Regions from separate parts of the Homo sapiens genome. Here regions 1 and 2 are each linked to region 3. The links come from fine-mapping of genetic effects on gene expression. A gene starts in region 3. Each other region holds a variant in brackets. All regions are shown on one strand. Distances are between the middles of the regions. Region 1 overlaps DIDO1 (death inducer-obliterator 1). Region 2 overlaps DIDO1 (death inducer-obliterator 1). Region 3 holds the start of DIDO1 (death inducer-obliterator 1).

What was found. PIP is the estimated chance that this variant, and not a neighbour inherited with it, causes the effect.
Region 1: its variant is fine-mapped to the expression of DIDO1 in whole blood (INTERVAL, PIP above 0.99).
Region 2: its variant is fine-mapped to the expression of DIDO1 in whole blood (INTERVAL, PIP above 0.99).

Annotation. Positions count from the first base shown.
Region 1 is chr20:62,890,136-62,892,889 of GRCh38, forward strand. DIDO1 (death inducer-obliterator 1) reads right to left here. Exons shown (of 16, transcript NM_001193369.2): 13 at 2,674-2,754; 14 at 1,852-1,941; 15 at 825-1,020. Among named protein-coding and RNA genes, the nearest start is that of SNORA117, 8.6 kb to the left of the region's middle. The variant A/G (reference allele first, on the strand shown) is at 1,421.
Region 2 is chr20:62,894,590-62,897,343 of GRCh38, forward strand. DIDO1 (death inducer-obliterator 1) reads right to left here. Exons shown (of 16, transcript NM_001193369.2): 7 at 1,942-2,407; 8 at 1,644-1,803; 9 at 460-576; 10 at 221-325. Among named protein-coding and RNA genes, the nearest start is that of SNORA117, 13 kb to the left of the region's middle. The variant G/A (reference allele first, on the strand shown) is at 1,437.
Region 3 is chr20:62,925,030-62,927,783 of GRCh38, forward strand. DIDO1 (death inducer-obliterator 1) reads right to left here and starts at 1,476. Exons shown (of 16, transcript NM_001193369.2): 1 at 1,410-1,476. RefSeq lists enhancers at 352-965, 574-623, 966-1,579, 2,462-2,754 and silencers at 1,064-1,153, 1,224-1,663.

The sequences.
Region 1 (2,754 bases), 35 kb before region 3:
AGCACCTGCCTTTATGACGAAGCACTTCAGAGGACACTGTGTGATCCACACACCCGCTTTGAGAGAACACCAATCCTCTGGGGACTGCATGGCCACGGAGACACTTCAGTTGGGCATCAGATACTAACCCCTAACTGAAGTCACATCAGCTTCTTCTAAGGGGCTATGAAAGAGCTGGTCACTAACAGAGCACGTGGCCCCTGGAATCACCCTCAACCCTTGACAAAGATGTATTTTAGGCTATTTGTAAATAATCGTTTAAATACAGTACTTTCCAAGGAACGTGCAAACACAAAATAGCTTGCCAAAGATGAATGAACCTATTACAATTTGAGCTGCAGATTTTAAAATAATTATTTCTAGAAATAGTTTTCTATGTCATTATTGTTAAGTCTCCTGGAAATCCATCCCTGTTAGAGAAGTGATCCCTGATGGAGCCACTTCCCGGTGTGTGCTGGCTCCCGAGTCTGTCTAGAGGAAAGAGCAGGGCCGCTGGGAGTGTCACCTCCCTTTCTGGCTGAGCCTTGGGCTTCTGGGCACTGAGTCTTCTCTGACCTGAGGCCAAGATGAGCTGGTTGCAGGCTGTGGGTTTTTCCCTCTCTAAAAAACTCTCCTAAGACAATTTATGCTGTGAATCAGGGGTACTTCTCGTGCCACAGTCCTACGCCCTCAAAGATGAATCCTATTGCTAACCGCTGCGTCTGTGCTCCTAACTCCTGCTCCCAGAGAGCCCTGGGCTGGTCAGGACTCAGCAGGGCATGTCAGTGGGAGGAGGGGTGCAGGTGCAGGTGGGCCTCACCTCCACCCAGAAAGCCGGCGCTTACCTGGTCCCTCAAAGGGCAAGAGTTTGGATGGAACAGGGTCCTGGGCGCTCAGCGGGATCAGGTAGAGGTCCTTGACGTGCCTGTTGTTATTAGCTACAACACCAAAGCGGCCACGGCTGCTGAAATAGGAGTAGAGAGAGATATAGGCGACCTCCTCTTCCTCTGTGGCGGGGTGGAAGCGGATCAGACAGAGCTCCTGCAATGGAAGAGTGGGAAGCACTCATAAAGAAAATGTGGCTCAAGCATCACACGCCCAATTCACATCCTGCTTTCAACAGGAAACCTTGTCAGATCTCTCCGACTCACAGCCACGATCTCACAGAGCTGCTGTCTCAGTGAGGCAATTCACGTGACATGTGAGCCCAGCAGTGTCTGGAGCCGAGCCGGCTCTTCCTACATGCACGACGGCCCCGGTCACGAGGAACCAGCTGCATGATCTGCAATGGCTGTCTGTGCCCCTCCCTAGAGGGGGTTAAACTAGACGACAGGGTCTAGCCCTTTCGTGAACCTGACGAAGACTACAGAGATTCCCCAGAGAAAACCACAGACAGACACGCACAGCTGTAGCTAAATCTCAGGGGGTCCCAGAAAACCAG[A/G]ACCGTTCAAGAGCCCAGGTTGAGTGCCCTGAGCCTGATCACCCCTGCAAAAGACACCTTCTGCTCCTTCAATCATAAAAAAACAAGAAAATAAAACGTATCTATTTCTTCCTAAAATTTAACCGCACATACATTATAATAAATCAGAAACAAACTTCTACCGCGGCACACTCAGACACCTTCACACAGTCATACAACTATGTAAACTTTTTTTTTTTTTGAGACAGTCTTGCTATGTCTCCCAGGCTGGAGTGCAGTGGTGCGATCTCGGCTCACTGCAAAACTTAATTTTTAACATTCACCTGGAAATATCTAGTAAGCTACAGGCTAACATTTTAAGTGTTAACCCATCCAAACGAGAGGTTAAAAAAAGATGTGTTTAAATCAACACAATTTTCCATGGTTGCAGAATTTATACTATAAGCAGGTACCTTAGACACAGAAGACTTGAGTTTGCCAACATAATCCCAAACTGTCTTCGGTGCGATCCTCCCACCAATGTGAATTGTGTCAGGCAAATCCTAAACAGAAAGTACTTTGCGTAAATCACTTTGAACTGTAGTAGTCACAGAAAGACGAATGCAGCCATGTGAAGGCACACACTACCCAAGATTCAAGAAGACTACAGCTATTCCAAGGAAAAGAGTCACACTTGTATTAAATGCATTAAGTCCAGGATGACAAGTGGCCAAATCCAAAGGGGGAGTGATGCCAACCTTCTGCCAGACAAGATTATGTTTAGAAATGACTGCCCAACACTTCTATGCTGTCTTTACGTACATACACAGAGAGTAACGATTCACTATGAGCCAGGGTGACTCCTTGCATTAAAGTCATAAATGCTAGTGCTGTCTTCTGGTTAATTCTGAAAACTAAAAGGCCTGCCACGGGGTCATATGCGCCACCCCGCAAGTGGCCAGGTGTGTGTAAAGCAGGCTCCGAACACCTGGCTGTGCCGGTGGCTGTGCGCACAGCCATGTGGTCAGTGCCCCAGCGAAACCGATCACTGAGAGGCCAGACTGCAGGCTCACATTTCCGACCCTGTCCAAACTGCTGAACCTGCGGACTCATCACGGCCATCGCCACTTTGCATTTAGAGCCGTTTCTGCATCCAGACAGACGGTTGCAAGAGTGTCAGGCATTTCTGTTTCTCTCCTACCTCATGAATTAAGGGAGAAAGTCATGTGTTTGACTCTAGTTTAGAAACTCCTATGAAAGACACACACACGCACACACATTTTCTTGGTTCTAACCTCACTGAGGTAATCAAAACACCCAGAGACAGGATACGCCTTAGTGACAAATTTTGCCACACTCTGCATGTTAATAAATCC
Region 2 (2,754 bases), 30 kb before region 3:
CAAACTCAGCTCCAAATTAACCACACACAAGAAAAGCAGTCTCATGGGATTGAGACCCACGGGGGAGAAAAAAGGACCATCTAATACAAGGACTGAGGAATGCCACAATGACATACACCTGCTGTAAGCTCAGGTCCTGCCCAATAATTTAAGATAACCTCAAAACATTTGGGATGGATTAGTCTATTCTCGGTGAACACAAAATCTCCCAAATGCTTACCTCTGAATCCGACACTGGCGGAGAGTCCTCCAGATCGGGGATGGCCTCCTGCCTGGGGGCCGTCTTCTTGCTTTCATTGTGCAGTTTAGTTCTGGACTCCATCACCTGAAATGAAAAAGACGAAACAGAGCTTAGGCCTTGTTTTCTAGGAGGAAAGCATCGCTTATGCAGCCGTCTATGAATTTATTTCTATTAAGCTCGAGTCCTGGGTGCCTCCGCAGGTACCCCTCAGCACTCACAGATCTCGCTGGCCTCTCTTTCCACGTGGAAAGCTCTTTAGATACAAGTTCTTCTGGCTTCAGTCTCACAAGTTTCGCCAAAGAGATTTCCTCACGCAGAACACGATGGAAGAGTCCCTATAAACAAGTATTTTTCATTTACTCAAATAATATTCCTATATCTGTCAATACAGAGAGCTTCTGGAAAACACAGCTGCCCAGAAGTTTAGCGGGCACAGGACAAAGGCCCTCAGGGCCCACTTGCGTGTGGCACTGGGCAGAGCCCTCCCTGCAGGGTGTGACCTAACTCCCCAAACGGCCTTATGAGAGTGCGCCCCAGGATATCCCTGCTGTGAGCAAATGGGAGCCCAGAGAGCACAGGTAATAAGGTTCAACAGTGGGTTTCACGGCCTGTGCTGCACTGGCTCTGCTAAAAAAAAAACAACACACAACACCTCAGGAAAAACAATTATGTACACAAGGTGGACACAAGTCAAAAAGGTAGCGTCAGGAACAAAGGAAGGAAGAAATCATTTCTGTTTAGGGCTGTTCAATGGTGAGATGCAAAGTCAGGGTATTTCATTATCCTAAAATTCTAAACAGGGAGGAGCCTGGAGGCCGATGGAGAGAGAACACCACAAGGCTGTCAGCCCGGCGGCCTATCCCTCCCAGCTGGAGTTTCTGTCCTCGTCGCATGGCCCATGCTGCAGTGAGGAAGGACTGATCCCACTACCTGGGCGTGAGCAGCCCCTGCTCCAAGTGGTGAGAACTCAAGCAGCCCAAACCATCAGGCTCACTCGGCTGATGAGGAATATGAGAAAATAAGGTGGAAAAGGCTGTCTGAGGCCGGAATACGGACACCCTCATACACTGGGATGAAGAACTGGACTTTATTTTGGAGCCCAGTGAAGCGACTGGCTTGTACCTTTACAGCAATGTTTACAGGAGACTAATGTGGTGATAAAAGGTGGACTTCAGGGAAGCCAGGAAGCGGACGC[G/A]ACCCTAGTTAAGGCAGGGAAGGGAAGGGGTTTCCAGGACGCTCAACGCCAGTGCAACAATACGTGGGCGGCAGAAGGATCACAGAGGAGAAAGAAACGTCTTAGCTTTCCTGGAAAGGACACGAACATCTCAAAATATTGGTTGATCCCTTTAGCACCCAGCGAACAGAACAGGAATACTCCAATGCACCGACACCAGGCACACACCTGATTTTTAGGGTCCTTCAGGTTGAACATGATGCTGCGATATTTACTCTTGTAGCGATTATCTGTAACTTGAAACAAGTTAAACATCTCCTTCTCAATATGGAGGGCAATTTTTCCTACTTCGTTTTCTGTCATGATTAAGTCATCGCTGTCATTGACTCTGAACAGAATAAAAAAAAGGAACTACATAAGACACTTGTGTATATTAAACTTTTTGAACAGTGAGGCAATCCTGCAGCCACACTCTAATGAAAGCCCTTCCATTTTAATGGGTAAGAAATCAAGCAGAACAGCCCACCTTTTCCACAAAATCTCTTTTAAGGAGCGTCTGATATTTTGCCGAATTTGTGAATTTGGCTGCGATGGTGCAGCACTCATAGCCCCAAGGCGTCCTGGGGCTGGCGAGGCCATTGGAACAGAAGGTACCACTGGCTTCCTTACGGCTCCCACCAAAGCAGCGGAGCCAGGGAACTTCTTGGAGGCAGCCGTTGCCGCTGCAGGTGCCGGTCCGGCCTGCCTGGCAGCTGAAGCACCACTCGATGGGGTAGCGGAGAGCCATGGCCTCTTGGGGATGGTGCCCTTGAAACCTGAGGGTGGCTTTTTAATGGCTGGTGTGGCTGCTGCCACATTAGCAAAAGAAGACTTCTTTGGCACGAGGTTTCTAGGTGCAGGCTGCTTGCCCACCGCGGAGCCTGGAGGGGCTGTTTTCTTTGAGGCTGCCATGGCTGCCGCTTTCTCCTCGGACCTCCTGTCTTCCTTCGTGGCTACAAAGAAGAACACAGGCGCTGAGTAAGGGAGGACACCACAGGGTGCTGTCACCTGACTCTAAAAAGCAGACTTACCCTTAAACCTGTAAGTGCCCACCTGGCATTACTGAATAGGATACACATAGAGAAAAGGATTTGTAAAATGTTAGTGTTCAGAGGAGTGTAAGGGAGGACCGCCAGCAGCATTTATGACGGTGACTACATTTTATTTCAGAAAGAAGAATGCTTTATTATTCTATCTTTTACCTTCAACCAGCAAACTCTAGTTATTAAAGGCTTGACTTGCGCACTAGCTAAGCTTCAAAGCTGAAGGACAATTTCCTATCATCACTTTTTAAAAGGCA
Region 3 (2,754 bases):
GCTGTGTCTGTCTTCCTGGGTGACACTTCTGAGATGTCTATGCCGTATTTAAAATAGTGAAATAGTCACAGACACACATACACTAACAGCAACCCAAAGGGCCACTAAAGAGCCCTAGGCTCCAGGTAAACGAGTTGGCAACACCTGATTTAAAGGAAGGAGCTGGAATAATCTCTCAAGTTCCCCAGTGAACTTGTCTCCAGGACTGGGACAGGGGCCACCTTGGTCACTGCTGTATCCCTCGTGCTAACAGTAAGCAATGAATGCTCATTTAAAAAAAGACTGTATTTACTCCTTAAAAGGCACTGCTAAGGACCTTTCTCAGAACTGTATTTCAACCAAGTCATATGTGGCCCTACGGAAACCATGGAACACGGGGTATATAGCAAAGTTATGTGAATATACCGAAAAGACGTTCCCATCTGCCTTTCCCTCCTCTAAGTCCCTGAGTACACTAGGCTCAAATCTCATTCCATCAGCAGACAGATGACACGGATATCGAAGGCCCAGGCACAAGTTAAAGAGTATTTTCAATAACTGGTAACGCAGTAAGCTACTGCTACCTGTGGCCCAAACTCTAAACTTATATATTAAAGTCCTTTATTTAGAGCAGAAAAGCCGGCCTTGACCTCCACTGTCTCAGAACCGCGAGAAGGAGCCCCGGACGCCGCAGCGGAGGCAGCACGAGCACCCCTCCCGCCGAGCGCAAGAGCGGGCCCTTTCGGCTTCCGGGGTCACTGGAAGGCAAAATGTGTCACAAATACGGCCAGTACAAACCAACGCAACAAACTATTCCACAAAAAAACTGAAAACCAGCGCGGGGAGGTAAGGACACACTCTTCAGAAAAGCGAATCCGGGCTCTTCGCGCTTCCTGCAGCGCCAGCCGCCCCTGCAGTGCCGGAATCCCCCGAAGGCACGCCAGAAGCTAAGCCGGCCACCCCGACCGCACCCAAGGCCCGGGAGGAAGCGCCGAGGTCCCCGAGAATGCCTAGGGAAACCAGCTGCGCTTACAAGCCAGCTACGCAGCCCCCGAGCCCCGGGCCGCACTCGCCCAGGCCAGCCCTGCGCTCTTCCCCGCGAGCGGCCGCCCCGACTCCCACCCTCGGAACCGTTCCAGCCGCGACCACCGAGTGCTCGCCAGTCCCCTCGACCTCACGCAGCCCACCAGGGCCGGCGTCTGAGGCCCGCGCCCCAGGCCGCGGCGGCTCTGACCGGCCCCGCCCGCTCGCCCGCCCGCCCGCCCGCTCCTTCCCTTCCGCGGCCGCCATCTTCTCGGCGGGAGCGGCCTGTGCGGGATCCGCGGCTCTCGCCAGCCGGGCTCCGATGCCGGCCCCGCCCCGCTCCCGAGGGCGGCCCAAGCGGCGGCCGGCTCTTCTACCCGGCGCCCGGGACGCCACTTACCGCAGGCCGCAGGCCTCTAGGGTCTCGCAGCCATTTCCCCGAACGCCGCGGAGTGGGCGGACGGCCACCGAGATGGCGCGGGGCTAGAGCGGCGCCCCCGCGCGGCGGGCGGAGGACGAGACCGGCCACCGAGACGCTGCGGGGCTAGAGCGGAGCCCGGGCTGCGAAGCCCGGCCCCGGACTGCGCGCATGCGCCCGTCTTTCATACCTGCACTCCGGACGCGCCCTTCGGGTCTGCACTGACAATGACTTGCTTGCATCCTTTGTGGACACCTTATTTCCCCGACTCCAAGAGTGAAAGCTGGGGCAGTGCCCTTGCGGGGATCCCTCGGAACAGCCCGGGCAGGGCGCAGGCGGAACGTGGATGCTAGCCCCGAGGGACTGCACTCCGCCAGGATTTCGCTCTTAAGACCGATAAACCCTTCAAGTCGGTGGGGATAGAAAGCTCCTGGGCTAAATTTGTAAGAGGTGTAGGGGGGCGGGGACAGGGGATAAAAGAAGAAAAGGCCCAGGTTTTCTCTTCCAGATTGTGTTTCTCAAAACGCAGGCCCCTGACGGCCTCGGCTGGGAATGGCAGCGAGGGGCGAGGTCCAGGTGTGGGCGGGGTTTCTCTCCAACTTGAAGACCCTACCTGCTGCCTCCCCACCCCAAGCTCGGCTCCAGAAACCAGGAGCGTGGGGGTGGGGGGGAGAGAAAGGAGCACAGCGAGGAAGGGAGGCGGGCACGCTGGACCTCTAGGCCCCAGGGACCTTGGCGGTGTGGTCCCAAAGCTCTGCCTCCTCCCACCATGTCAATCCTACACTCAGAACTACTGACCAGTAGCTAGAACTCAAAGAACGCATGGACATGTTTGCCCACAGGGGTTGGAGGGAAAGATTAGACACTTACTATCAAGAGAGGGGAAAGTGAGGTATGGTAGATGTCAACCTTCCATGTGGATTTTCTTCAGTTCGCTCAATAGTAACTAGAGTGACACTCTATCACCTGTCTGTCCCCAGATACTGCAGGAAAGAGACTGGGAGGGGGCAGGAGGGGCAGCTGTTGCCTCGAGGCACCATGGGCACTGGCCACTTGCTCCGAGGGCAGGGACCTGGGGGGGGTGGAGGTGGCCCCATTACTTGTTTCTGCTTCTGTGAACAGTGATACGCTACCTGGAAGCATGGACCATCTAGCCTTTGGCGTTGGCCCTGGCCAAGAGTAAAAGGGGCCCAGAGTGCCGTAAAGCTGCCCCTAATACAGAGGCTTCTGCGATGCTTCCATGGATGAACCAGGGGCTTTGAGGCAGGTGTGCTTTTTAATAATACCGCTGAAGATTACAGGGTCTGCTAGTTTCTGAGGCAGACTTAGTTTTC